4 linked regions of the Homo sapiens genome follow. The protein of the gene in region 1 purifies or fractionates together with the protein of each later gene. This does not show direct contact. Each region holds a gene or a part of one and is shown on either strand. Other genes may lie near its edges.

Region 1 (7,621 bases):
TACTAAACAGGGATTTTTATGTAAAATTTCCTGGTTTTTTTCCATGTTTTCAAATAATTTTTCCAAATTAAACACCCCATGGGCAGTTCTGCATGCGCCCAAAACTAAGCCACATCCTACAGATGAAGAAACTGAGGCCCAGAAAGGTGAAGTGGGGAACTTAAACCCAGTCCCATATGTTCCAAAGCCCTTGCTTCCCTCTCCCCAGCAGGAGGAGCTGGCTGCAGAGGGAGGACCTGCTTCCGCTCCCCTCCTCCCACTGGTGAGGGCTGGGCCCCAGTTCACCTGTCAACTGGAGCTGGGTTTCCCAGGGCTGAAGAAGGAGCAGCAACACGGGCCAGCAAAGAAGGCCTCTCATGGCGCTTGGGGACAGAGAATGGAGGTGTCAGAGCCTGGAGGGAGGAAGGAAAATAGAAAAGCAACAGTATTTACAGAGCTCTTATTCTGGGTGATAGGCACTTGGAGGGGGAAGACAGTTACAGGTTTATTTTACTAATCTCTCTATTTTTGTGTATGTTTGAAATGTTTCAGAATTAAAAAATTCTCATCACAGTGGGATTGCTGGGAAACACAAGAGATTCTTTTTTTTTTTTTTTTTAGATAGAGTCTTGCTCTGTCGTCCCGGCTGGAGTGCAGTGGCATGATCTCGGCTCACTGCAACCTCTGCCTCCCAGGTTCAAGCGATTCTCCGGCCTCAGCCTCCCGAGTAGCTGGGATTACAGGCTCCTGCCACCACACCTGGCTAATTTTTTGTATTTTTAGTAGAGAGCGGGTTTTGCCATGTTGGTCAGGCTGGTCTCAAACTCCTGACCTCAGGTGATCCTCCCACCTCGGCCTCCCAGAATGCTGGGATTACAGGCGTGAGCCACCGCGCTCGGCCCACAAGAGAATGGTAAATAAGAATAGATACATAGATACAAATATGCAAAATTTAAACAGAAAAAAACAGGTCTTCCTTAAATGTCAGGCACAGTGTTAAATGCTCTTCACGCATTGTGGCATTTAATCCTCTCTGCAATTGTAAGACTAAGGCTGTGATTGTCCCCCATCATACAGACAATGAAATTGAGGCTCAGAAAAGTTAAGCGCTGGTACCCAAAGTCATTCGGCCAAAAAGTGGCTGCGGCAGGATACAATCCCACGCCTGCTAGTTTCTGTGAGCCAGCCTGGGCGTTTGGTGCCTCTCCTCCTGCCAGGCGAACCTCTGCAGACAGAAGCCCTTCCCCACCTCGGCCCACTCCCCTACGCACACAGGCTTCTGTGTGGCTGTCTTTGCAACTCGCCAACCCCCCCAGACCCCTCCACACACACAAACACAGACATGCACTGCCCAACCGCAGGCGGCAGGGAGGGGCTGCGCCCTGTTGCGGGGCTGAGCGTGGTGGCGTGGCAGCGAGTGGACCAAAACCCACTGCGCACGAGAACGCGCGGCTTGGCGCCTGTTTCCCGCCTGCTCTCAGGAGCGACCGCCAGGGGGCGCCCGAGATGGCAGGGGGCGTGGGAAGCCCACATCTGCCCAGCAGGTGCGCCCACCCCGAGCAAACAGGGGGCCGGGGCCCGGGGCCTTGGAGATAAGGCCTGGACAGGATATAACCCGCGCAAGAGCCGAGGAGCAGGGGTGTGCAGGGTTCCAGCGACAGCAGCACTGGACTCGTCCAGAGGGCGGCGGGTGAGCGGCTGGGGCCCCGTGGAGCCACCATGGACCCCGCAGGGGCAGCAGGTGAGCGCTTACCCTCCCGAGGCCCCGGAGACGCCCCGTGAGAACTACGAAGGACCACCCCCCCACCCCCTCCCCACTATACAAATAGGAAAACTAAGCCCCAAGGAGGCAGCCCGCCGAACTGCAAAAGCAGGATTAGAACCTAGGGCTCCTGGTTCCCCTTCTCTCTCTTGAGGCCCCCTGGCGCCTAGAATTCACTAAACCTCATTTCCTTCCAGCTCCTACCCCACCGCCGCGCCCCATGCTGAAGCTGTGTTAGCCATTTTTCTGTTGCTGTTTCTTGGCAGAGAGGGCCAGCTGCCCCTAACCCAACAGCAGCTCCGCCCCCGCCCCCCAATTCCGTGAATGCGCCTATTCTGAGCGAGGCCAGTGCCTGCTTCTCACTCCAGGCGACCTTCTCATCCCGGATTCTTCTCCCTTTTCCCCTCCCAGGCCTGGTAGAAGAACATAAATCCTCTGGCAGGGCCCGTCGTGGGAGGGTGACCAAGCAAGATGTGGCAGCGCTGGTGGAAGTGGGAGGGCGGGGAACCCTTGTCAAGCTTGGGCCACAGGCAAAGCCAACATCCCTGGACAGCATGAGGGCTAAGGCACAAGGGGCCTCTGCCACCTCCCATACTTTCCTACCCGGAGATGCCTCTGGGCCCCTAAATCTTGGTTAAGGTTCCCCTCATCCCATTCTTGGTCTGAGCCAACTTCTCACCTGGCACCCTGCCTCCACCCCAGGAATCCTAGAAAGTCAAAATAGCAAATGCCTCAAAGTTCATCACCTTTCCAAACCCCTCATTCTACAAAGAAAGGAACTAGGTCCAGAGAGGGTAGTGTCTTGCTGAAGGGTACATGGCGATGTCGTGGCAGGACTGATACTAGAACCTGGGATTCCTCTGAGGAGTTAATCCTTGCATTAAAAAAAGAAAGATTCAGAGATGCCCTGAGGTGAGGTTGAGGGAGTGGAGCAGCAAGGGAGGAGAGGCCTGTAAATAAATTCTCAAAAGTCCCTTAGGGACATTTCAGGGGGTTCCTGGAGGGATGAGAGTAGAAAAGGGATGATCCTATTTTGATGGCTTTGAGGGTGGGGGCTCGATTTGGAAAGGACCCTGCAGAAGTGGGGAAGGGCACTGCAAATCAGATAGGGCACCCTAGGCAGCGTCTCTGCTAAAATACACTCGCCTGACCTGGCTTGATGCCTACTCCCCTGCAGACCCCTCAGTGCCTCCCAATCCTTTGACTCACCTGAGCCTGCAGGACAGATCAGAGATGCAGCTGCAGAGCGAAGCCGACAGGCGGAGCCTCCCGGGCACTTGGACCAGGTAACGGCGGCGTGGCAGCGTGCCCTAGGTGGGGACTGCCAGGCAGCTGGAGCACACAGAGGCAACGGCCGCATTTAACCCAGGGCTGGCGGGTGGGGAGGGGAAGTGCAGGCTGCAACCCCTCCCACTGGCAGGGAGGGATCCCCCCTTCCTCCTGAGGGGGGGCAAACCCAGCACCCCCTGCTCCTACCACGCTTGGAGCTGCAGACAGGGCTAGCTGCGGGCCAGGCTGGAATTCAGCTACAGCGGGAGACTGGGGAGACCGGGGCAGCCACACTCCACAGCCGGAATTCATTGGAAGCTTAGAAGGCACTTCCCTGAGGAGAGCCCCAAGGGGTGGAGCGGTCCTGGCTGTGGCTGCTGCCTGTCTGGCCTGGCTTTCGAGGGTGCGGTCTTGCGCTGTCCCCTCCAGGAGTGAGGAGAGACTCTGGTCCTGCCAAGAGGAATAAGGGCTCAGAAGGACAGCCTCAGTTTTCATGGCTCTCCTTGGGCCTCAACCTGCTAACCCCCCAAATCTCTCCCACCTCCCCTCCTCTACTTGCTCCCTGCAATTGCTCGGGCCTACCCACCCACACCGCTCAAGACCCCCAGGTTAAGAAGCCACCAGACCTCTAGGCTCTAACCTGGCTCACTCTGCAGGACCAATGTCATCTGCCTTGACTCCTGTAATCAAGGGTAGGAAAGCCCACACAGCAACAGGCCACTTCTCATGGGAGAAAGGGAAGAATATGGCTTTGGCCCCAGAAAGGCTCAGATTCCCCCAGGCCATCCCCCATCCTGAGGACAAGGTTTTGGGCCCTTTTCTGTTTGCAGGCAGGAGGCTAGAGAGCGCTCCAGGCCAGGAGCCCAGGAAAGGCTCTCCCTTCCCCTCCCTCCTCACCCCCCACCCTGCCTTCCCCAGGGTGGGGAAGCTTCATCTCTACCAATTCCATCAGCCCTAAAATACTCTTCTCCATCCCAAGGCCAGTATAAGTGCAGCCTTTGTGTCACAGCCACGTGTCCCTATGGCCCTGGGCTCCAATGGGCATGATGCCAGACCCACAGAGTGGAACCTGGGTGGTCCCATGGGTTCCATGCAGGCTTCGTTGAGCACCTTGCAGCCTAAATATTTAGCCTACAATTTGCAGCCAAGTCTCCTCCTTACCTAATGCTTCCTCTTCCTGACCCCACAGGGGCAGGATATAGAGCAGCCCCACCCTCCCACTCACTCTAACCCCCTGCTCACTTCATTTTACTCAACCTGAGTGCTTGGACCCTGTGCCACCTTGACCCTTCTCCCTCCTGTGGCTGGTCGACCTGCCTGCCCTACTCCCAGGTCATCCCCAGAGCACACCACCATTCTGAGGGGAGGCGTGCGCAGGTGCCTGCAGCAACAGTGTGAACAGACTGTGCGGATCCTGCATGCCAAGGTGGCCCAGAAATCATACGGAAATGAGAAGCGGTAGGTGCCTCCGCAGCCCCTCCCAGGTCTCTGCAACTGTCAGCCCTATGCACCTCCTCCATCCACCCATTGGGCCTCTTTTAGACGCAGAGCAGGCCTCAGGGCTGAGATCTCAGCTATTGGTCGACCAGGGCCTTGACCCTCAGCCACCATTAGCCCCCACTTTGGTCTATAGTTCTACAGCAGGAGATTCCCTGTGAATCTCCTGTCTCCATTCATTCACTCATTCTCCCATTGATTCACTTATTCATTCATTCAACAACTACTTACTGAGTGTTTGTCATGTATGCACCAGGCTCTGTGGGTACTGCTGGGCACTGGGCATACAGCTGAACAAGACAGAAACAGCCCCTGCTCTGTAGCCCACACTCTCACTCAAGTGTGGAAGAGACAGACAGTAAACTCCCCACAAGTCAGGAAACAAGATACTTGCAGATTATGATGAGCACTAGAAGGAAAACTGAACGAGGCCATTTGACGGAAACTGAAGGCAGGGGGGACATTAGCTAGAAAGGTCAAGGAGGTTGAGAGACCTTTTGGGAGGTAACATTGGAACTGAAACTTGAATGCTGAAATGGAGCCAGACAGGAGAATATCTGGGGAAAGCGTGCTACAATTAGAAGGAACAGAAGGGCCGGGCGCGATGGCTCACACCTGTAATCCCAGCACTTTGGGAGGCCGAGGCGGGCGGATCACCTGAGGTCAGGAGTTCGAGACCAGCCTGGCCAATACAGTGAAACCCCCTCTCTACCAAAAAATACAAAATTAGCTGGGCATGGTGGCGGGCACCTGTAATCCCAGCTGCTCAGGAGGCTGAGGCAGGATAATTGGTTGAACCCGGGAGGCGGAGGTTGCAGTGAGCCGAGATCATGCCACTGCACTCCAGCCTGGCGACAGAGCAAGACTCAGTCTCAAAAAAAAAAAGGGCAACAGAAAATGGGAAGACCTTGAGGCTGTACCAATTAGGCCTGTTTGAGGTACAAAAGAAATGACAGTGGCTGAAATCAGAGGGAGGAGTTGTAGGAAACAAGTCAGAGAGGTAAGCAGGGGTCAGATCTCAGGAGGACTTTGAATTTTAAACCAGTGGAGGATTTTAAGGAGTTAACATGATTTGACTCATGTTTTTAACAAAACACTCTGGCCAGCCTGGTGGCTCATCCCTGTAATCCCAGCACTTCGGCAGACCCAGGTGGGCAGATTGCTTGAGCCCAGAAGTTCCAGACCTGCATGGGCAACATGACAAAACCATGTCTGTACAAAAAACACAAAAATTAGATGGGTGTGGTGGCTTGTGTCTGTAGTCTCACCTACTCAGGAGGCCGAGGTGGGAGGATCAGTTGGGGAGGCAGAAGTTGCAGTGAGCCCAGACAGCCGAGATCAAGTTACTGCATTCCAGCCTGGGCAACAGAGCAAGACCCTGCCTCAAAAAAAAAAAAAAAGAAAAAGAAAAAGAAAGAAACAGGAAGGAAGGAATGAAAGAAAAAAAGAAAGAAAGAGAGAGGAAGGAAGGAAGGAAGGAGCACTCTGGCTGCTGTGCGAAATGGGAAGGAGATAGAAACAGAACTTTCTGGAAATAGACCAGTTTGAAGGCTGATGCTGTGGTCCAGGCAAAAAGTAATGGCGGCTGGGATGAAGGGCGAGGTGGTAAAAAGCCAGTGGATTCTGGATATATTATATTTTGAAGGTGGAGTGGACAGGACCTTCTGATGAGTTGAATGAGGGGTGTAAAAACAATAAGGTTTGGCTATGAATGGGGTTTACAGTCGTGAAAAAGCGTTGCGGGGAGCGGGAGGAGGAAACGAAGGTTCTGCTGGGTTTATGCTACTACCTTGCCGTGCTTACAGGAGAGCCAAGTGGAGATGGATGCACGACTCCAACACTCACTTATCTCCGCAGGTTCTTCTGCCCCCCGCCCTGTGTCTACCTCTCGGGGCCTGGCTGGAGGGTGAAGCCAGGGCAGGATCAAGGTGAGGGCGGAATCAAGGGCTGCCGGCCGCCTGCTCTGTAGGGAGGACCACGAGATTGGGCCCGAGACGGGGCGGTTCGCAGGCGCAGTCTCCCCGCGCCCTCTGGCGGCGAGCGCTAAGCTTGCCTGGCACCTGCGTCCTCCCGAGTCCTTGCAGAGCCAGTTCGCGTCCCTTTCCAGCTCACCAGGCGGGGGAAACGGGGCCCACGGTCTGCGGTTACATGGGACTGGACAGCGCGTCCGGCAGCGCCACTGAGACGCAGAAGCTGAATTTCGAGCAGCAGCCGGACTCCAGGGTGAGAGCGCACGGGAAGGGGTCCGATTCCTGCTCCCATCCCTGCCTCTCCTGGGAAAGGAGGGCTCCTTTACTCCCCTCCGAAAGCCAAGAGATAGGTGGGGAGACCGGGAGGCCGGGGTCCTGCCTTAAGGCCGAGCCTGAGAGCCTGGATGGTGGAGCTTCTGGTCACCTCCGACGGGGCGGACGTCCGATATCTGGGAGAGGTTGGTTCATCCGACGGGGGAGGGCTGGGATGAGATGGCCCTGTACCTGTGAGCCCCCTAGGAATTCGGCTGCGCCAAGACCCTGTACATCTCAGATGCAGACAAGAGGAAGCACTTTCGGCTGGTGCTGCGGCTGGTGCTGCGCGGGGGCCGGGAGCTGGGTACCTTCCACAGCCGCCTTATCAAGGTCATCTCGAAGCCCTCGCAGAAGAAGCAGTCGCTGAAAAACACCGATCGTGAGCAGGGCGGGGCCTGACCCCCGGCCCGGGCGGGGAGGTGCAACCAAGCCCAGAACGGCTAAACTGGGGCGCGGAGGTGGGGGTAGGCTGGGCTTAGGGGTCAGAGTGGAAAAGGTGGAGTCGGAGCCGAGAGGGGAAGGAGTCTGGATGAGTGGGTGCGGCCCAGGCCTGGGGATGAGAAGAGTTGGAGGATGAAAAGCAGAGAGGAAAGGGACAGATACCAAATTCCAGGTTGGGAGTTGGGGTCCCAGAGCAGACAAAAGTTGAACTAGGCAGGAGTTGAACTAGGGACAGACTAAAAGTGACATAGGTGGGGCACGGTGGCTCATGCCTGTAATCCCAACAATTTGGGAGGCCAAGGTGGGCGGATCAGTTGATCCCAGAAGTTCAAGACTAGCTAGGGCAACATGGCGAAATCTTGTCTGTACCAAAAAAAAAAAAAAAAAA
Region 2 (7,111 bases), on another chromosome or scaffold:
CTCTAACTCCTGGGCTCAAGCAATCTTCCTGCCTCAGCCTCCCAAGTAGCTGAGACTACAGGTGCATGCCACTGTACCAGGCCTCAACTCTTATTCTTAACAACATGCCTCGGATGAGTAAAGTATGTTATACACAAAAAACTAGGGCAGGGAAATACCAGATCACTTCTGGAAAGCCCTGCCAAGCCCAGGGTGGTAGAGACAGGGTTTTTGCTTAATCCCTGGCTGCAGTTCCTGGGTAGGAGGGTCAATATGGAGGAAAGAATCTCCAAGGACTGTAAGAGTAGGGACAAGCCAGGATTGGGCGGAGGTGTCAGAAAGGTCTTACTTTCTGGATTACTGCCTAGCACACATGAAGCCCTTGCAGGACAGACTGCCAAAAGCTTGGTAGAAGGCTGTGCACCACTTCGCCAGCCTTCAATCAACATGCACCAACTGCAAACCAAATGACAACATCTCCAAGTATAAAAATAGGATGCTACCTTGTGTTCTCATCATATTTATACAGAATCAAAAATAACCCAGACAAAACCTCAGAGCTGCTTGTCCCACTGGCCTGCTTGCAACTGTGTTTGTACCTGGGGTCTCTCCAGGAGCACCTGGGGTCAGGGTTCCAGCTACTGTCTCCACAATGATCTCCATGTTCCCTGGTCCCTCTTCAGTTGCTGTGGCCTCTACCAGCAGGCAGCCTGGCTCAGTAGGTATAGGTGCAGGGTCCCGGGAAGGACAGGGGCTCTGGACAGGCCCCAGGATTCCACGGTTAGAGAGAGGCGGGGGGATCAGCAATAGCTCAGGGCACAGTCCATCCATCTCCCCGGTGCTACTGGCTGGCTGTGAGTCCAAAAGGGGGTCTGTCATCACCACCGACTTGTGTGTTTTGGCTTCTTAAATGCTGACAAGCCAACCAGAAGAAAAACAAAGTAAGGTTAGAGTTCTTACTTTCTTCCTGGCTGGCGTGGGTACACAGCCCAGTGCCCACCCACTTAGGCATTTTCTTGCATGGCAATATGCCATATATACCATATGAGACTAAATAGAGGCTTTCTTTTATGATAATGTTCAGAACAAAAAGTATAAAAATGATAACAGAATATTAGGAGACAGCCAACAAGTATTGGCCAATATATTAATGACTGCAGGTTGTCTTCTGCTAGCTAAGTGCCCTTAGCCAAGTCATTAAGCAATTTGGGTCTCAGATTTCTTATCTGCAACAAAATTAGGTGGGGCCCAAATATCTCAGAAGTCCTTTTTTTTTTTTTTTTTTGAGACAGAGTCTCGCTCTGTCACCCAGGCTGGAGTGCAGTGGCGTGATCTTGGCTCACTGCAACCTCCGCCTCCTGGGTTCAAGCAATTCTCCTGTCTCAGCCTCCCCAATAGCTGGACTACAGGCATGTGCCACACACGCCCAGGTAAATTTTGTATTTTTAACAGCGATGGAGTTTCACCATGTTGGCCAGGCTGGTCTCGAACTTCTGACCTTGGGTGATCTGCCCGTTTTGGCCTCCCAAAGTGCTGGGATTATAGGCGTGAGCCACCTTGCCTGGTCCCTTTCCCTCTTAACCTTTGATAATCTCACTATTCCTCAGCATGGATTATAAGGAAGGCCCTTCCTTCATCATCTGGCTCCTGCTGACCTCCCCTGACTCATCTCCCACTTCTCCCCTCAGCAGATCTCTGAACCAGATGATGTGCCATTCTCCAGACCCACCACATTCTCTTTTGCTTTCATACCCTCACAGCCTTTTGCGTCTCTTGGCTTGATATGCCTTTTCCCCTTCTCAATCTCTCTCTCTTATCTGGCTAACCAATTAACTATCCTTGAAGAAGCTGCACAAATGTCACTTCCACCATGAAGGCCTCCTGACATTCTTTTTTTTGAGACAGTCTTAGTCTGTCACCTAGGCTGGAGGGCAGTGGCACGATCTCAGCTCACTACAACCTCTGCCTCCTGGGTTCAAGCGATTCTCCTGCCTCAGCCTCCTGAGTAGCTGGGATTACAGGCATGTACCACCACGCCTGGCTACTATTTTGTATTTTTAGTAGAGATGGGGTTTCTCCATGTTGGTTGGGCTGGTCTTGAACTCCAGAACTCAGGTGATCCACCTGCCTCGGCCTCCCAAAGTGCTGGGATTACAGGCGTGAGGCACCGCGCCGGGCCTGGCTTCCCGAAACTCTTATCTTCTCTCTTCTGGCGTCCTAAGGGCACTCTGTACACAGCCCTATCAGAAACGAGGTCACACTGCACTGTTGTTTACCTGTCAGTCTCTCTCCCTAGATGTATAGCTTTTTTAGTAATTTGTTGACATTATCACTTCAATGATATTACTTTGTGATACTGACATTATCACTTCAACGAACACAAATCACCCACAATCGAAGATTCCAGTGAAGAACCACAGATATGGAGCTGCATTGGAGTAAAGCTAGGTATCTTGTACAAAACCAGTGGTTCCTCACCTATAACGTAACACATTTGGAGAAATTTCAAACTCATTAACTGACTATGGCCTCAAACTAAATATGGGAACATAACTGAGGAATGAATGACAATTGAATTGCATACCCTGTTATACATGGCTAAAATGAGTTTAAGCTGAATAATTAGTAATTAATAAGAATGATGGGAATCACTTCATGAAATTGAGTCACAGACAAGATGCAAAAAGAAAAAAAGAAGAAGAAACCAGGCCGGGCGCGGTGGCTCAGGCCTGTAATCCCAGCACTTTGGGAGGCCAAGGCGGGCCGATCACCTGAGGTCAGAAGTTCGAGACCAGCCTGGCGAACATTGTGAAACCCTGTTTCTACTAAAAATACAAAAAATCAGCAGGGTGTGGTGGCACACGCCTGTAATCCCAGCTACTCGGGAGGCTGAGGCAGGAGAATCGCTGGAACCCGGGAGGCGGAGGTTGCAGTGAGCCGAGATCGCACCATTGCACCCCAGCTTGGGCAACAAGAGCGAAACTCCGTCTCAAAAAAAAAACAAACAAAAACCAAGATCCTGCAATCTGATAGTCCCTATTTCCAGAATCCCATGGACTCAAAACAACAGATCACAGGGATTCACAAGGTGGCTGGAAAGTGCACTCCCGTGGTCAGAGGGATTCTCTGGAAACTGCAGCCTCCACTTACTGAATATTATCGCTGTTCTGGGGAATCTTCAAGCTTGACCATACATGGCCTCCGGGGGGAGCCAAGGAGGACGCTGAGCCGTCAAGATTAAGAACCTTCACCTGCGGGAGGGCAGGGTGAGGTAGGAGACAGGTGGGCACCAGAGAAGAAATACGCTTATCTTCCGGGCAGGAGGGCTGAGGAAGAGAAAGGACAGACTAAGGCAGAGAGAAGGCCTGGAGAAACAACGGGCCCCGGCCTAGCGACCCAGGTTCCCACCTGCCTCTGGCTCTGACTCACCGCGTGGTCTTGGACAGACACAGTCGCTTCGCTTCTCTGGGCCTCAGCTTTCCTATCTGTAAAATGGAGGTGATGACAGTGTCCACATCGTCGGGCAGGAGCTGGATCATAAGAGCCAGCGAACTGGAAAGGCGGTTTGTAACCTGGAAGGCTTGGGATGGAGCATCGTCATGATTTTGTCCTGAGAGCAGCAGGTACCCGGGCGGGGTCCAGAACCGTGACGCGACTGCAGCGCCGGGGCCCAGCTCGTCTGGGTGCTCCCTTCAGTACCTCCTTCCGAGAGTTCCCAGCGCCCAGGCCCACCCTGATCCCGGGGCTCGAAAAACTTTGCCTCCAGCTCGCTCCACCCGCATTCCCTTCCCAGTTCCGCCCCGCAGCCGCTCACTCACCTCCAGACCCAGAGCCGGCGGGAGCCGCATCTCTATGGTCGGCCGCGGCTGGAACGGCCCCCGGGGCCCGCTTTGTGCGACCGCCTCCGGCTCAGCCGCCTCTAGGATATTGGGGATGTGGAAGCCACTCTCTCTTCCTCTTGCCGGCTGCCGGGGTACTCTATGTTTTGTCTCTGTGGTTTTTCCCGCCCTCCACCCCCACTCCAGCCCTGAAGCCGGAGAAGCACCATCGAGAGCTCTGGGGTAGAGTGGCGTGGGCTTCTCTGTGGGTGTGGCGGGAAGTAGATGAAAGGACCCGGGGCGGGGCCGAACGCAGCTTCCCCAAGGTGCAGGCGCGGTGAAACCATCGAGACGGAGGGCCAGAGAGTCACGGCGGTGAGAGGGCTGAGTGACGGGTTACCCCAAACCATGTGGCTGGAGGCGCGAGCTGGGGTGTGGGCGAGGTTCAGGAGGGGGTTCCTGGGTGTCGCGGAGGGGCCGGGGACGGGAGAGCTTTGTCTGTGGCCTTCCATGCATAGGTGTTTTGGAATTCTGGATCCCAGTTCTGAGGCTCAGCCGAGGTCACTGCTGTCAGCTCACCTCCCTGCATGCCAGGCGCAGGGCAAAGTGGCCGGGGTTCGGGGTTGGAGGAGAGGTGTACTAGAAACAACTTTGCTCTTGTCCCTCAGGATCTTATTGTCTACGATGTGACGATCCGTGGAGAAAGTAGCAGATGGGCAGATTTTCATTTGGGGAGAATGAGGGAGAAAAGAACGGGCATTCCGAGCCAAGAGCACTGCATGAGCAAGGAGTTGGGAGGTTGCTTACTTGTTGAACATATTTGTTGCGTATTTGCATATTTGCTAAACAGGTAGTGTTAGGAGCTAATCCATGAAAGGTAGGTGGGCGCCGTATTGTAGAGAGCCTTGAGTACCAGGCTGAGTTTATACCCAATTCAGGGGTCTGCTGGGAGCCAGCCATTGAAGGTGCTGGAGCAGAGAGAGATATGGTATTGGAGCTGATCCCTATGATGAAAGATCTGGACCCTTGTGTAGATGTTCCGTGAAGCAGGAGGTGAAGACCTATTAAAATGCCATTTCAAGAACTACGATTTTAAAGACAGTTTAGGTGGGAGGTAATAAAGGTCTAAACAAGACGTTAAATATTGGGGACGTAAGGGGGAGGATATTTGAAGGACATTACTCATAACAAGACATAGGGTTACTGACAAGTCAACGGACGCTTCTCCCTTGCTGACTGCAGCCAATGGACCCCTTTTTATCATAGCTGGTCCCAGGGACCACAAAAATCCTGTCCATCCATTACCCTGATGTGAAGCCTGTTTATATAGCTCTTTTTGGTTTAAGGCATCTCCAGACATGGTCCTCTGGTAGGAAACAGGTATGAGTAGACTAATGAAGGACAAAATGGGATGAGGGACCTGGAGCCTCCACCCTTGCATTCCAATACCACCCTTACCCCACAAAAGGAGGGTATTGACCCACACAGTAATGCTGACCTGTGGCCAGGGCTGGGGAGGTCCAATTTCTAATCTGTGCTTTGTCCCATCTCCACTGTTCCCCACCCCTAGGTTTTCGTAACACCCCAGGGCCTGTAAGGTTTGGTGTTTCCCTTTCAAGATGCCACTTTCAGACTTTATTCTGGCTCTGAAGGACAATCCCTACTTTGGGGCTGGATTTGGGCTGGTGGGTGTGGGCACAGCCCTGGCCCTGGCCCGGAAGGGTGTCCAACTGGGCCTGGTGGCATTCCGGCGCCATTACATGATCACACTGGAAGTCCCTGCTCGAGACAGGAGCTATGCCTGGTTGCTTAGCTGGCTCACCCGCCACAGTACCCGTACTCAGCACCTCAGTGTCGAGACTTCGTACCTTCAGCATGAGAGTGGCCGCATTTCCACTAAGTTTGAATTTGTCCCCAGCCCTGGAAACCATTTTATCTGGTAAGGTGGGGAGCTAGGGAGGGCTGTGAGAGTAGAAAAGAATGATGGGAGCTGGGTTTGACCCATTCACTCACTCAGTTTTGATCGTTCTTATTCAGGTATCGGGGGAAATGGATTCGGGTAGAACGAAGTCGAGAGATGCAGATGATAGACTTGCAGACGGGGACTCCTTGGGAATCTGTCACCTTCACGGCCCTGGGCACTGACCGAAAGGTTTTCTTCAACATCCTGGAGGAAGGTGTGGGATGGCACAGGCAGGCTTTCTAGGGACATTGCAGGGATGGGGACATTTGACATCAGATGAGCAGTTTGGAGAAGTGGAATAAGCAGGCCGGGGTGAGCCCATGGGAACAGGGGGCCAGAAGGAAGCTGTTTGGCACAGCTCCACCTAATTGAAGAATCAGCCATGGTGAAGAGAATTATTGGCTTTATCTCATCTTCTCCTTCCCAGCTCGAGAGCTAGCCTTGCAGCAGGAGGAAGGGAAGACCGTGATGTACACAGCTGTGGGCTCTGAATGGCGTCCCTTTGGCTATCCACGCCGCCGGCGACCACTGAATTCTGTGGTTCTACAACAGGGTCTGGCTGACCGAATTGTCAGAGACGTCCAGGAATTCATCGATAACCCCAAGTGGTACACTGACAGAGGTGAGAAGCAGCTGGGGTCTTGGCTGTGCTGTTTTTGACATTTTTAGAAGGGACAGGTTGGTCTCCAGCCAGATGGGGTGATATAAAGCTCTAGTCCAATTCCCAGAGATTAAGAGGAATGAAAAGTTGTGTATGAGAATGATTTATTTCCGTACCAAGGTTATCAGGCTTCCAGGGGGCAGGGCTGGGAATGAACGTAGATATCCGGGGCAAAAGACATGATCATCCTGGCTCTATCCCTAGGCATTCCTTACAGACGTGGCTACCTGCTTTATGGGCCCCCTGGTTGCGGAAAGAGCAGTTTTATGTGAGTATTCAAAATTTCTCTCAACTTGGCAAAACGAAGCCTTTGTGGAAACACTAGGCTGATAGGGTTGGAAGGGGAAATGAATCTGGGGATCGGGGACCAGGATAAACATGAAACGTGTGGAACATCAGGGTGTGAGGTAGAAGTCAGGCCTCTGAGACACATGTCCCCAGGCGGTGAGGAGAGTAGCTGGGCCTGAGGAAGCATTTCCAGGTTGCCTGCTACCTCCTGCCATCCCATGCTCCATAGCACAGCCCTGGCTGGGGAACTGGAGCACAGCATCTGCCTGCTGAGCCTCACGGACTCCAGCCTCTCTGATGACCGACTCAACCACCTGCTGAGCGTGGCCCCGCAGCAGAGCCTGGTACTCCTGGAGGATGTGGATGCTGCTTTTCTCAGTCGAGACTTGGCTGTGGAGAGTA
Region 3 (7,105 bases), on another chromosome or scaffold:
CTGGAGGAGACCTCTATAACAATCAGCTGAGGCTGCTGAATGAGGGGGAAGGGCACATTTGTAGCAGCTTCTCTTACTCATGCTTTGTAGACTTCCTTTCCTGTCACAGCTCTTGGTATTTTTCCACTCCAACCCAGGGGAAGCCATTCTCCTGTAAATATTACTCCCTCTTTAAACTCCAACCTAAAGTGATGGTGAGGCTTCAGTTTATATGGCCTTCCCTTTGACTTTTTTTCTCAAATATATTTAATTGTACAATTATATCCTTACTGTGTAGCTGACTGGTAGCTCAGTATCACCAGCAGTCTGAAATAGAATCTCATAGCCTATTAAATAAAACTGTGGCTCTCAGCAGATTTCTAGCATGTGGTTTTGGCTAATCTCCTGGAATATATTGGAGAAAAGTACCAAGAGACATTTCAGTTGCTCTGTTCCTAAACAGTACCAAAATAACTTGAGTGTTTTGAACACTTTCAAATAAACAGCATGGATCAAATTTCAAAGGAGAGACTCATGGAAAGGTAACTTTCACAATCCCTTTGTTCCTTGCCTTTGCTCTGATGTCACAGGCTGCCGGTGTTACCATAGCATGAGTTAAATTTCCTGTTTTCTCTCGAATGAATGTATTTGACTTAGTGTCTGGGCTTGTTTTATTTCCTTGGGCTTAGTAAGGACACTCAACAGTACTCTCAGGTAACCTTTTTTTTTTTTTTTTTTTTTTTTTTGAGACGGAGTCTCGCTCTGTCACCAGGCTGGAGTACAGTGATGCGATCTTGGCTCACTGCAACCTCCGCCTCCCGGGTTCAAGCAATTCTCCTGCCTCAACCTCCAAAGTAGCTGGGATTACAGGTGCCTGCCACTGCGCCTGACTAATTTTTGTATTTTTAGTAGAGATGGGGTTTCACCATGTTGGCCAGGCTGATCTCGAACTCCTGACCTCAGGTGATCTGCCCATCTAGGCCTCCCAAAGTGCTGGGATTACAAGAGTGAGCCACTGCTCCCAGCCACCTTTTATTTTTCTTTGAGAGAGGGTCTCACTCTGTCACTCAGGCTGGAGTGCAGTGGCATAGTCACAGCCTACTGCAATCTCAACCTCCTGGACTCAAGCGATCCTCCCACTTTAGCCTCTTGAGTAGCTGGGACTACAGACACATGCCAGTATGCCTGGATAATTTTTTTTTCTTTTGTAGAGCCGGGGTCTCACTATGTTGCCCAGGCTGGTCCCGAACTCCTGGGCTTAAGAGGGCCTAAGAGAAATGAAAAGGCATTGCTCTGGCAAGGCTGAGGAGCAGTATATCTGCACTCGATTTTGGTTAGCTCTGAGAACCATGGTAATTTGTGAATTCTAGCCACCTGTTACCATGTGAGAAGGAGTGGGCCTTGTACTCTTTTCTCCAGTTTTTCAAGAAAAGCCAGAAATTTGCACTTTAATGGGAAATCTGTGTTGTTTTAAAATACTGTATAGTGACACCATTGAAAATGGTGGCATAGGACCTCCAAAAAAGGAATGAGAACTGTATTAGTCTGTTCTTGTACTTTTGTAAAGACATACCTGAGACTGGGTAATTTAAAAAGAAAAGAGGTTTAATTGACTCATGGTTCTGCAGGACATACAGGCTTCTGCTTCTGGGGAGGCCCCAGGAGAATTATAATCATGGCGGAAGGTGAAGGGGAAGCAAGCACGTCTTATATGGCAGGAGCAGGAGGAAGACAGCGAAGAGGGAGGTGATACACACTTTTAACCGGATCTCATGAGAACTCTATCATGAGACAGCACTAGGGAGATGGTGCTGAACCATTAGGAACAACCCCCATGATCCAATCACCTCCCACCAGGCCAGACCTCCAACATTGGGGATTAAAATTCAACATGAGATTTGGATGGGAACACAGAGCCAAACCATATCAAGAACATTGGCAAAAATGATCAGAATCAGCTTTTTCAGAACTCTGGAAATTAACCAAAGGCTTGCAGCAATCTGGGGAGCATTTATTCAAGAAAAACATTGAATCTCAGTAAGAACATTAAGAATTGTGGCATTTTAACTTGCCCTGTTCCCATGCTGCCTTTTCCCAGATCAGCTGTAGCCTGGACAACCGATAGCCTGCAATCACAGTGAAACCAGGAGGCTGGCAGTTACTGCAAAAGGGAGAACAGAGGTGATACTCCTCATAGACCATCCCCAGAAAATTGTCATTTGACTGGTCTGATGGTTTCCTAAAATTGTCCATTCACAAGGCTGTCTTTATTTGACCAACACAAGTCAGTAAGGAAAGAATAGTCTTCAGTAAATGGTGCTGGGATAACTGGATATCCACATTAAAAAAAAAAAAATCCCTATCTCACACCATATATGAAAATTAACTCAAAATGGACCAAAGTCCTAAATGTAATGCTGAAACCATATAACTGTTAGAGAACATAGGACTGGATTTTTGCGACCTTGGGTTAGGTATTGGTTTCTTAGCTATCCCATCAAAATCATAAGTGACAAAAATTAAACTTGACTTAGCTAAATTAAATACATCTATGTTTCAAAGAGCACTATTAAGAAAGTGGGGGCCAGGCACGGTGGCTCACGCCTGTAATCCCAGCACTTTGGGAGGCTGAGGCAGGCGGATCACCTGAGGTCAGGAGTTCGAGACCAGCCTCAACATGGAGAAACCCCATCTCTACTAAAAATACAAAAAAAAATTAGCCGGGCATGGTGGTGCATGCCTGTAATCCCAACTACTCGGGAGGCTGAGGCAGGAGAATTGCTTGAACCTGGGAGGCGGAGGTTGTGATGAGCCGAGATTGTGCCATTGCAGTCCAGCCTGGGCAACGAGAGCAAAACTCCATCTCAAAAAAAAAAAAAAAAAAAAGAAACTGGAAAGACTTCATCAATGTAATGAAAAACCAAAAAAAAAAAAGAGAAAAGGTAAAAAGACTGCCCATAGAATTGGCAAAATATTTGCAAATCATATACCTGATAAGATTCTAGTGTTCGGCAAACATAAATAAAATAACAACCGTAAAAAGACAACCAAATTTAAAAATTAGCAATAGATTTAATTAGCCACTTCTCCAAAGAAGTTATACAAATGGGCAGTAAACACATTAGTCATTACGGAAATGCAAATTTAAAACTACAATGGCCGGGTGTGGCGGCTTACACCTGTAATCCCAGTACTTTGGGAGGCTGAGGCGGGCAGATCATTTCAGGTCAGGAGTTCAAACCAGCCTGATCAACATGGTGAAACTCCGTCTCTACTAAAAAATACAAAAATTAGCCGGATGTGGTGGCACACTCCTGTAGTCCCAGCTACTCAGGAGGCTGAGGTGGGAGAATCACTTGAACCTAGGAGGTGGAGGTTGCAGTGAGCAGAGATTGTACCACTGCACTCCAGCCTGGGCAACAGAGTGAGACTCTGTCTCAGGGGAAAAAAAAAACCACAAAACTACAATGAAATACCATTTCACACCCACTAGGATGGCTATGATAAAAAAGATAGACAATACCAAGTATTGGTGAGGGTGTAAAAAGATTCGACCTGTCATACACTACTGGTGTGAATGTAAAACTGCAGCCACTTTGGAAAACAGTTTGGCAGATCCTCAAAGTTAAATGTATAGTTACTGTGTCCTCAAGCAAATCCATTCCTATGTATATACCTAACAGAATTCAAAACATATATTCACACAAACTTTTTTTTTTAGACAGTCTCGCTCTTTCACCCAGGCTGGAGTGCAGTGGTGCAATCTCGGCCTCAGCCTTCTGAGTACCTGGGACCACAGGCAAGCACCACCATGCCCAGCTAACTTTTGTATTTTTAATTTTGCCATGTTGGCCAGGTTGGTCTCGAACTCCTAGCCTCAAGTGATCCACCTGCCTCAGCCTCCCAAAGTGCTAGGATTATAGGCATGAGCCATTGCACCTGGCCACACACAAACTTATATACAAATATTCATAGCATTATTCATAATGGTCAACATGTGGAAACTCAAATGTACATTAATTGAATAGGGGAGGAAAATTTGACATATCCATATAATGGAGTATTATTCAGTCATAAATGGAATGAAGTACTAATTTATGCTACAACATGGATGAACCTAGAAAACATGCTAAGTCAAAGAAGGCAGACACAGAAGGCCACATGTTATATGATTCCATTTATATGAACTGTCTAGAACAGGCAAAGCCATAAAGACAGAAAGGAGATTAGTGGTTCCCAGGAGCTGGGAATGACTGCTAAAGGGCATGGGTTTCTTTCCGAAGGGTGATGGGACTGTTGTAGAATTAGGTAGTGTCGATGGCTGCACAACTTCTTGAATATATTAGAAAGCACTGAATTATAAATTCTAAAAGGATGAATTTTATGGTATGTGAATTATATCTCAATAATTAAAAAACTAGGCAATTGTGATCAGTAAGGAGATATATATATATATATATATATATATCTGAAACTTCTGAATTGCTAATATTGATCTGTTTTGTGACTTGGGTAGTAATTATAGGGTGTTTACAACTATCTGTTATACTTATGTAAGTTTTATGTGTTTATATTTTATGAAATATACAGTAAAGACACATTACAAATCATGTCTGTTGATAGATATCCATCTTTTCAAGCTCTAGTTTTGGGCATTGAAAAGAGATGAAACTGGCATCTCTGAGGTGCCTTTTGAACAGTGTCATATCTTTGGGACAAGAATTGGTTGCTAGGTTGACTCAACAGCAAATATCAGTGATGTTTCTGAAGAGACTGTAAGGCTGTATGATCCACCAAACCTTCTGCCTCTGCCATTCACACTCTTCTATTAAACACTTAGCAAGGCATAGTGGCTCATGCCTGTCAGCCCAGCACTTAGGGAGGCCAAGGTGGGAAGATTGCTTGAGGCCAGGAGTTTAAGATCAGCCTGGACAATGTAGCAAGACCCCATCTCTACATTTTTTAAGAGTCTATTTCCACAGCAAGGAAGAAATGAAAGTACAGCACCTGTCCCATTTCCCACAAAAAAGTCTTTGCCTAGGGTCTGCATATGTGACTGGAAGCTAAATTATTGGAATGAGCTTGTTTGTTTAAGGTTATTAAAGTTCTGGGTTCTTTGACTTCTAAAGTCACTCTGATATGTATTTGGAAGAGTAAATGTCTAGCAAATTGGCTTTATATTTCCTTTAGAGATCTAGCAAAGACCAAACCTGCTTTGGACCTCATCTGTGCCACAGTGCCCTTGGGGGATGGGCCACCTGTAGCAGAGGAATAGGAGCTGAGGCATGAGCTGATAAGTGGCATCACTTTAGGGCCCTCTCCAATCTCACCTGGAATGTCACTAATAGTGACCTATTTCTTTGGGTTCAAGCTTTTCATTTTCTGGGCCTCCTTTATATTGCAGATTCTTTTATTTTATAGATAGGTCTCACTATGTTGCCCAGGCTGGAGTGTGGGGGCTATTCACAGACATAATCATAGTACACTACTGCCTCAAACTTCTGGGCTCAAGCAAGCCTCCTGCCTCAGCCTTCAGGATAGCTGGGATTACAGATGTGCACCACTGTGCTCGGCTGCAGATTCCTTTTAGGAGGTGAATACATAATCAGTAATTTGCTAATGCCTTAGTAAAAACTTAGTGATGTGCCTGCATAGAGGGAAATCTATAATAGACACTATTGGGATTTGGCAAATTTCAATGTAGCCGTATATTTCCCATTTATGACAGCAAAGATTTTAACTTAATACCTCTTATTTAACTTAATACCTCTTATCAAAAGTTTTTTGATACTTAACATTTACCATCTTCTAGACACTGTGCTAGGCATTTGCTATTATCCCATTTTCATAATTTGTAAAAAGCAAATTTTGACCACCTCAGCCATTAGGATGGCTACTATCAAAACAGAAAATAAGAAGTGTTGATGAAGATGTGGAGAAATTGAAACTCTTTTACACTGTTGGTAGGAACATAAAATGGAGCTGCTATGGAAAACGGTATGGCAACTCCTCTAAAAATTAAAAATAGAATTACTATATGATTTAGCAATTCCACTTCTGGGTATGTACCCAAAAGGACTGAAAGCAGGATCTTGAAGTAGTTGTGTACCCATGTTCACAGCAGTATTAACAATAGCCAAAAGGTGGAAGCAACCCAAGTGTCCATTGATGGATGAATGGACAACCAAAATGTGGTACATACATATAATGGACTATCATTCATTCTTCAAAAAGCAGGGCTGGGTGGGGTGGCTCATGCCTGTAATCCCAGCACTTTGGGAGGCTGAAGCAGGAGGATTGCTTGAGTCCAGGAGTTTGAGACCAGCCTGGGCAACTTAGCGAGTCCCAATCTCCACAGTGGGGGGAAAAAAATTAGCCAGGTGTGGTGGTGCATGCACATAGTCCTAGCTATTCAGGAGGCTGAGGCAGGAGTATTGCTTGAGCCCAGGAGGTTGAGGCTGCAGTGAGCTATGATCATACCACTGCATTCCAGTCTGGCAGCATGGACAACAGAATAAAGCCTCATCTGTTTAAGAAACAAAACAAAGAAACCTGACATATGCTGCAATATGGGTGAACTTTGAGGACATTATGCTAAGTGAAATAAGCCAGTGACAAAAGGACAAATACAGCATGATTCCATTTATATGAAGTTTTTAGAGAAGTCCAATTTATAAAAACAAAGTGGAATATCAGTTACTAGGACTTGGTGGGAGAAGGAAATGGGGAGTTAATTATTGCTTAATGGGTACAGAGTTTGTTTTGCAAGATGAGTTCTGGAGATGGATGATGGTAGTGATGGTAGTGTCCAATCAACTTCTCAGTCTTCTCGGCTCTTACTACAAAGGAAGAAACTGTACTACCCAGATTTCTTTTTTAATAGAAATGTTATTTATAGTTAATAACGAATGCACTGCATAAAAACTTTATAGTTTCATTATTGTGAAATGTGTTCAAGATCCTACAGTAAAAGTGAAACATTCCCAAGGACTTGCGTTAGTGAAGACTACACAGAAAACCTTTCTAAGGATTTGTGTGGATCCGATAGATACTTGGCAAATTTTTGAGTTGTACATTCTTACAGAAAGTCCACTTAAAAGTGATCATTTGTAAGACAAAAATATAA
Region 4 (7,826 bases), on another chromosome or scaffold:
AGGGCTCCAAATGCCAGCTTAGGGGAGTGTGGCCTTGATCCTCTAATTAACAGGGAAAAATAAAGCTTTTGTGTATTGAAGCATTCCAATCAGCTGGAAATGTTAGAGGAATCTGAAGACCAGAGAAACAGGAGGCAGGGAGTCCACTTAGGGAGTTAATAAAACCATCCACAGAGCGCAAGCATGTGGCAATGAAAGAGGCCTGATTTAGGCTGGTGGTGGTGTGAGCAAACATAGATTAAGAGATACATGGAATGTGTAATATAATTTTTTTTTTTTTGAGATGGAGTATCGCTTTTGTTGCCCAGGCTGGAGTGCAATGACGCGATCTCGGCTCACCGCAACCTCCACCTCCTGGGTTCAAGCAATTCTCCTGCCTCAGCCTCTTGAGTAGCTGGGATTACAAGCATGGGCCACTATGCCCAGCTAATTTTGTATTTTTAATAGAGATGGGGTTTCTCCATGTTGGTCAGGCTGGTCTCGAACTCCCAACCTCAGGTGATCTGCCTGCCTTGGCCTCCCAAAGTGCTGGGATTACAGGCATGAGCCACCGCACCCAGCCTAATATTTTTTTTAATACTTGAAAGAAATTAACAGTGTTAGTAGTGTTTATAACTTATGGTAGGGCTATAAGTAGTTTTCTTTTCCTTTTTACTTTCCTTAATCTTCTTACATTTTCTATAATGTGCAAGTGTTATTTTATAATCACCATAAAAAAGTTATGTGTAAAGAAGTATCCATGGAACTCAGCAACTGGTTCAGTTAAGTATCAGGGTGAAGGAGAGGCAAAGATGATTCTGATATTTCAAGCTGAATAGCAGTGCACATTAACAAAAATTAAGTCAGAAGTTAGTTAGGAGAGGACGTTATTGCCTGGAAATCCACTTTGGCCATGCTGAATCACCCAGTGGGCTCAAGTTTCTCTTCTTGGTCTCCTCTACTTGATCTCACCTGAACTAGTGGCTTTAACTAGCACCTCTTTTAAATTCTTCAGACATTGTTGCAAGTCTTTTATGTGCATGTCACTGTGCAAGCACTAAGTATTAAAGAGAAAGAAGCCGGGAGTGGTAGCTCAAGCCTATAATCCCAGCACTTTGGGAGGCTGGGACGGGCAGATTACCTGAGGTCAGGAGTTTGAGACCAGCCTGGCCAACATGGTGAAACCCTATCTCTACTAAAAATACAAACATTAGCCAGGTGGGCTAGCGTGCGCCTGTAATCCCAACTACTGGGGAGGCTGAGGCAGAAGAATCGCCTGAACCCGGGAGGTGGAGGTTGCAGTTAGCCAAGATCGCGCCACTGCACTCCAGCCTGGGCAACGGAGTGAGACTGTGTCTCAAAAAAATAAATAAAATAAAATAGAAATAAAATCTGGTCTAAGATGCCCTGCAGTTCTCATCTTGATCCATCTTCCTTCCAGTCCTCACAATGCAGCTGCAGTTCTACATTTCTATCTGCTGGATGTTACAAGCTATATTTCTTACGGGCATCTTAACTTCCCCCATCCAAACCCAAACAAATCAACTTCCCCCATCAAACCTGTTCCTTTTTCTAATTATTTTTCTCATTTCTATTCAATGTTAATACAACAAATATTTATTAAGCACATGGTGTGTGCTTGACTCTAAGCTAGGTACTCACTAGGTAGTGTTGAACAAAACAAACATGATCCCTGCCCACCTTCCAGTCTAATGAGGAATACAGACATAAAATGAATAACTAAATGATTACACAAGTAATCCATTAAAATCACAGTGGCAGTATTATTTTCCTAATAACCCAGGTTAAAAATCTCACTCATTTTTGCTTCTCCTTCAACATTTATAACCAATCAGTAAGTCTTTGAGTTTTCTTTCACCATAACTTAAAAATCCATCACTTTCCTTCATTCCCACTGCTACCAATTTTGTGTGGGCCTTTATTTCTTGTCTGATCTACGGTCTCCTAACTGGCCTTCTTGTTGCCCATTTACGCCACCACACACATCACTATTAGAATCATCAAGTATTGTCTCATGCCACAAATGGAAAAAAAATTTTTTTCAGTGGCTACTGTGTAACTGCTGATGGGTGTCTTCCCTTACATGCCTTGTCTTTCCCTGGTTTGCCAACTTTGCTCCTACCAATCTATCTGCCTGGAGCATGCTTAGTCTCCAAAGAAAATATGCTTATTACTCACACTCACTTCCTTGAAGCTCCTAGATCATCACCCCAACTAGAAATGATCACTTACTGTGAACTCTTCGGGTACACTAGCTCTATCACTCATTTACCACCTGTGTGTGATAATTTGTGCTTCATACAGCTCCTACTGGAGTGGTAAGATCCCTAATGGCAAAGATGTCTTAACCATCTTTCCGTCCCTAGGGATGCCTGGCACTAATGGTGTCTCCCTTGCCTGTATGCGGGGTTGGGGGGTGATTTCCATTAACTCTCTGGCCAGGTTCCAAACAGCTCTTACTACTCCCTGGATTCATTCTGGACCTGCTGGGGAAGCGCCAAGGACAATACCAGGGGCCAAGAACAAGATCAAAGGGGCACGGCAAGGAAGAAATGTGCATCCAATGAGTGCTAAACTGTAGATGCGATAAAGGCGTCAGGCAAGCACTGACCTGCTCCAGCAGATAGATGAGCTGGTCTCGAGCCAGCCTCTTCAGCATGGAGAAGTCAGGCAGCTCAGGGGCGTCCGGCCGATGGGGAAAAGCCATGGCAGCGGTCACCTGCGCCGCGGGGTGGAAGGACGCCCTTCGTTCTGAGAAGGCCGGCCGCAGCCCAGGGAAGCGCAAGGGGGGCTATCCTTCAGGCCTGGGCACCGACTTCCAGAGACCCCAGATGGGCCCTCGCTCCTCAGCAGCACTCCAGGAATGAATGGCCACCTCCAGGCAAGAGAGCTACTACCTCGGAGCAGCCTTGTCTCAGACCTGCAGCCACCGTGTCTCGACCCTCCCTCCCTGATCCACTCTGCCCGTCAGCAGGATTCCGGTCTACACCCCGCAGAGACTCCGCAGCGTACGAGGAGAACCCCGCCTTCTACCAGAAAAAGAAGCGACTTCCTAGATCTCCCGGAAGTCCCTTTCGCTCCCAGCGCTTCGCGTACCAGGAAGGGGACGGCGTCCTGAAAGGGACATTTGAAAAACGGAGGCAACGCGTCTATTAATTAGGTGGCGGCGCCTGGGGTCGCAGCACTCCAGAGGCTGAGGTGGGAGAATCGCTCGAGTCAGGGAGGCGGAGGTTGCAGTGAACTGCGATCGCGCTACTGCACCCCAGCCTGGGCAACAAAGCTAGACCTTGCCTCAAAAAAAAAAAAAAAAAAAAAAAAAAAGACATAATGAATGCATCAGGCTAGCTAACAATACCTCAACTCTGATCAATCATACCATCATATCATTTCCTGGTGAGATGCATAGGAAATACAGAGCATCACCTATTGCCAAAAATTGAACCTAATCAAGCCTCAAGATCTAACTACCAGTTTATAGGCTATATAGAGATTAGCAGGAATATGTTAAGACACCAAAGGTATGAAATCAACCATATCCAAAATGTAGGAAATTATATGGGACAAATGATCTGTCGTCTTCAAAAAAATGGCAAAGTGGGAAATGTGGGAGGGGAAAACACTTCAGAATAAAAGAGATTTAAGAGATGTATCAACAAAATGTTTCAATGTGTGGATCTTTTTTGGATAATAATTCAAAGATAACTGATTTAAGGAATTACTAAAACTTTTCGGGTATTGTATTTCTTTTCTTCTCTTTTTTTTCCTGACAGAGTCTCGCCCTTTTGCCTAGTGGAGGAGCTCGGCTCACTGCAAGCTCCGCGCCACAACCCCCCTGCCGCCCCAGGTTCAAGAGATTCTCCTGCCTCAGTCTCCCGAGTAGACTGGGATTACAGGCGAGTGCCACCATGCCCGGCTAATTTTTGTATTTTTGGTAGAGACGGGGTTTCATTATGTTGGCCAGGCTGATCTCGAACTCCTGACCTCAAGTGATCCGCCTGCCTTGGCCTCCCAAAGTGCTGGGATTACAGGCGTGAGCCACAACGTTGGGCCAGGTATTGTATTTCTATGTTATTATTATTTTTTGTATTTCTATGTCATACAGGCTTGTATTTCTGTTAAAAACAAGTCCTTATCTCTTTGAGATACATACTGAAGTTTTTACAGGTGAAATAATTTGGCCAGGAGTAATGGTTCATGTCTCTAATTCCCACCACTTTGGGAGGTCCAGGTCGGGGTCGGGGGGTTGCTTGAGGCCAGGAGTTTGAGATAAGATTGGTCAACTACAACACATAAAAAATAGCCAGGCATGGTGGTGGGCACCTTTAATCTCGATACTTGGGAGGCTGAGGCAGGAGGATCACTTGAGCCCAGGAGTTTGAGGCTGCAGTGCGCTACGATCATGCTACAGCACCCCAGCCTGGGCAACAGAGTGAGACACCGTTTGTTTTTTCTTTTCTTTTTTTTTTTTTGAGACAAGGTCTGGCTTTATCTATCACCCAGGCTGGAGTGCAGTGATATGTTCTGTCTCTTTTTTTTTTGAGATGGAGTTTCGCTCTTGTTGCTCAGGCTGGAGTGCAATGGCACGATCTCAGCTCACTGCAACCTCCACCTCCCAGGTTCAAGCGTTTCTCCTGCTGCAGCCTCCTGAGTAGCTGGGATTACAGGCATGTGCCACGCACCCAGCTAATTTTGTATTTTTAGTAGAGACAGAGTTTCTCCATGTTGGTCAGGCTGGTCTTGAACTCCTGACCTCAGGTGATCTTCCCGCCTCAGTCTCCCAAAATGCTGGGATTGTAGGCATGAGCCGCCATGCCTGGCCCGATCTGTCTCTTAAAAAATAAAAAAAAAAACTAAAATATGTTTGGGATTTGCTTTAAAATAACCCAGGGGGAGATGTAGGAACATTCAGGAAAAAGATTGGGCCAGGCACGGTGGCTCACGCCTGTGAACCCAGACCGAGGCAGGTGGATTGCTTGAGCCCAGGAGTTCAAGACCAGCCTAGGCAACACAGTAAGACCCCCATGTCTATAAAAAAATTAAAAAATGATTGGCCATTTGTTAATTGTTAAAGCTGATGGGTACATGGGGGTTTATTGCATTTTAGTATTCTACGTCTTTATTTAGAGATGGAGTGTTGCTCTGTTGCCCAGGTTGGAGTGCAGAGGTATAGTCATAGCTCACAGCAGCTTTGAGCTCCTGGGCTCAAGTGATCCTCCCACCTCAGCCCCCCAGATAGCTGGAATACAGGCACATGCCACTTTGCTGAACTTCTCCCTACGTTTCTATGTTTGAAAAGCTGTATAATACAAGGTTAAGCAAAAAACAAAAAACACGCTATGCTCACACTGGACTTTGAGAGCTCATATGGTATTTTATGCTGAGCCTTTCTTCCCACTAACGCCCTTAGATTGAATCTTGGCTGCAGTGGGAGATGGAGGTTGCCCTAAAGTGGTGGGATTTACTCCCACTGCTGCTTAAAGAAGATGAGTGAGGCATTACATTACACTCCTTCTTTTCCCCCCCGGAATCTCACTCTGTTGCCCAGGCTGAAGGGCAGTGGTGCTGTCTTGGCTAACTGCAACCTCCGCCTCCCAGGCTCATGCGATTCTCCTGCCTCAGACTCTGGAGCAGCTGGAGTTACAGGCATGCGCCAGCACTCCCAGCTAATTTTTGTAGTTTTGGTAGAGATGAGGTTTCTCCATGTTGGCCAGGCTGGTCTCGAATCCTGACCTCAGGTGATCCACCTGCCTCAGCCTCCCAAAGTGCTGGGCTTACAGGCGTGAGCCACCGCGCCCAGCCTTATTTTTATTTTTATCCCATGACTTTTTTTATCCCATAACTTTTTCTTCCTAAGTTTTTTCCATAACTTTTTTTTTTTTTTTGAGATGGAGTCTTGCTCTGTCACCCAGGCTGGAGTGCAATGGTGCATCTGGGCTCACTACAACCTCCACCTCCCGGGTTCAAGCAATTCTGCTGCCTCAGCCTCCTGAGTAGCTGGGACTACAGGCACGCACCACCATGCCCAGCTAATTTTTTGTATTTTTAGTAGAGACAGGGTTTTGCCATGTTGGCCAGGCTGGTTTCGAACTCCTGACCTCAGGTGATCCGCTCACCTCGGCCTCCCAAAATTCTGGGCTTACAGGAGCGAGCCACCACGCCGGGCCTAGTTCCCTGCTTTTGGATGACAGTAATCTTCATCTCATCTGCACCTGTTTCCCCCATTGGACACTTCCCCAGGTTTTGCTGACAGTGGCCTGCTTTTATTTAATTTTTATCACATGACTTTTTTTTTAATCCCATAGCTTTTCATAAAACTTTTTTTGGAATAATTTTTTTTCATAACTTTTTCCACAACTTTTTTCCCACAATTTTTTTCCTCAGTCTTTTTTCATAACATTTTTTATCCCATAATGTAACTTTTTAAAAATCCCATAACTTTTTAATCTCATAACTTTTTTTTTTTTTTTTTTTTTTTTTGAGACGGAGTCTGACTCTGTTGCCGAGGCTGGAGTGCAGTGGTGCGATATCGGGTCACTGCAACCTCCACCTTCTGGGTTCCAGCAGTTCTCCTGCCTGAACCTCCCAAGTAGCTGGGACTACAGGGGTGTGCCACCATGCCTGGCTAATTTTTTATATTTTTAGCAGAGACGGGTTTCACTGTGTTAGCCAGGATGGTGTTGATCTCCTGACCTGGTGATCTGCCCGCCTCGGCCTCCCAAAGTGTTGGGATTACAGGCGTGGGCCACCGTGCAGAACATCTCATAACTTTTTTAATCCCATTACTTTTTTTAATCCCATAACCTTTTCAGTTTGTGTTCTTTTAATAAACACTTGCATAGTTATATTACAATTTTGTAAAAATAAAAACATTATCCCATGCCAAGTGTGCCCAGCACTTGCACAATCTCGATACCTTTAATACTATGGTTTTCAAGACACACAAAATAAAATTTTAAGTCAAAAACAGCACTTTGCAACAATAACTTATTACATTACAGTAACATCACAGCAGTATTCGATAATGACACTTTAGGCAAAAGTCTTTCAGTATTTCCATTATAAATTCTATTTACAAGAATTCGTAAATAGGTAAAAGTTATTCTAAGAAAACTTGACAAATAAAACTTTGGACTGGAATTGGCATTTCTTTCTCTACTTTTCCTTCTCCAGTTTCTTTCTTTTAAGCTACAGTATTCATATTTTAAAATGTTTTATTTCAAAACATTAAAATAACAGTTACTTTTTTAATAGTTATACTATTATAAAATGACTCCTTAAGATAAAGTTTTAAATAAATTATATTCTGGATAGGGCTGATTTACATTTTGAAATTTTCTAAAAATCAGCTTGGTTTTAAAATGGATTTTTTTTTCCATTTCCGGAAAACCTATCAGGTTTAATCAAATACTTTAAAAATGATTATCATATATTGCAATCTTTTTTTTTTTTTTTTTTTTTAGAGATGGAGTCTCACTCTTTTGCCCAGGCCAGACTGCAGTGGCGCTATCTCGGCTCACTGCAAGCTCGGCCTCCTGGGTTCATGCCATTCTCCTGCCTCAGCCTCCCCAGTAGCTGGGACTACAGGTGCCCGCCACCGTGCCTGGCTAATTTTTTATATTTTTTAATAGAGACGGGGTTTCACCATGTTAGCCAGGATGGTCTCGATCTCCTGACCTCGTGATCCGCCCACCTCGGCCTCCCAAAGTGCTGGGATTACAGGCACTAGCCACTGCACCTGGCCCATGCCTGGCCTATTTTTATAGAGACAGGGTCTCACTGTGTTGCCCAGGCTGGTCTCAGACTCCTGGACTCAAGTGATCCACCCA

Evidence for each region.
Region 2: the proteins of MATN4 (region 1) and BCS1L purify together in Homo sapiens (affinity purification with mass spectrometry; 2 studies listed by BioGRID and IntAct, with this or other methods). This does not show direct contact.
Region 3: the proteins of MATN4 (region 1) and ARG2 purify together in Homo sapiens (affinity purification with mass spectrometry; 2 studies listed by BioGRID and IntAct, with this or other methods). This does not show direct contact.
Region 4: the proteins of MATN4 (region 1) and VPS33B purify together in Homo sapiens (affinity purification with mass spectrometry; 2 studies listed by BioGRID and IntAct, with this or other methods). This does not show direct contact.

Annotation. Positions count from the first base shown.
Region 1 is NC_000020.11:45,305,225-45,312,845, forward strand, and holds the start of MATN4 (matrilin-4 isoform 1 precursor), read right to left. Parts: upstream 3,076-7,621; 5' UTR 3,028-3,075; coding exon of another isoform or gene 2,919-3,027; intron 1,721-2,918; coding exon of another isoform or gene 1,699-1,720; exon of another isoform or gene 1,616-1,698; intron 393-1,615; 5' UTR 359-392; coding exon 286-358; intron 1-285. Other genes in the region: RBPJL (recombining binding protein suppressor of hairless-like protein), read left to right, coding at 1,699-1,720, 2,919-3,027, 4,343-4,468, 6,365-6,435, 6,615-6,730, 6,997-7,171. UniProt on the Homo sapiens protein: Major component of the extracellular matrix of cartilage.
Region 2 is NC_000002.12:218,655,572-218,662,682, forward strand, and holds the start of BCS1L (mitochondrial chaperone BCS1), read left to right. Parts: upstream 1-4,111; 5' UTR 4,112-4,172; exon of another isoform or gene 4,173-5,367; 5' UTR 5,368-5,416; coding exon 5,417-5,736; intron 5,737-5,834; coding exon 5,835-5,974; intron 5,975-6,187; coding exon 6,188-6,382; intron 6,383-6,625; coding exon 6,626-6,689; intron 6,690-6,938; coding exon 6,939-7,108; intron 7,109-7,111. Other genes in the region: ZNF142 (zinc finger protein 142), read right to left, coding at 579-858. UniProt on the Homo sapiens protein: Chaperone necessary for the incorporation of Rieske iron-sulfur protein UQCRFS1 into the mitochondrial respiratory chain complex III.
Region 3 is NC_000014.9:67,622,836-67,629,940, forward strand, and holds part of ARG2 (arginase-2, mitochondrial precursor), read left to right. Parts: intron 1-3,031; exon of another isoform or gene 3,032-6,505; intron 6,506-7,105. UniProt on the Homo sapiens protein: May play a role in the regulation of extra-urea cycle arginine metabolism and also in down-regulation of nitric oxide synthesis. Extrahepatic arginase functions to regulate L-arginine bioavailability to nitric oxid synthase (NOS).
Region 4 is NC_000015.10:91,019,543-91,027,368, forward strand, and holds the start of VPS33B (vacuolar protein sorting-associated protein 33B), read right to left. Parts: upstream 3,053-7,826; 5' UTR 2,708-3,052; coding exon 2,612-2,707; intron 1-2,611. UniProt on the Homo sapiens protein: May play a role in vesicle-mediated protein trafficking to lysosomal compartments and in membrane docking/fusion reactions of late endosomes/lysosomes.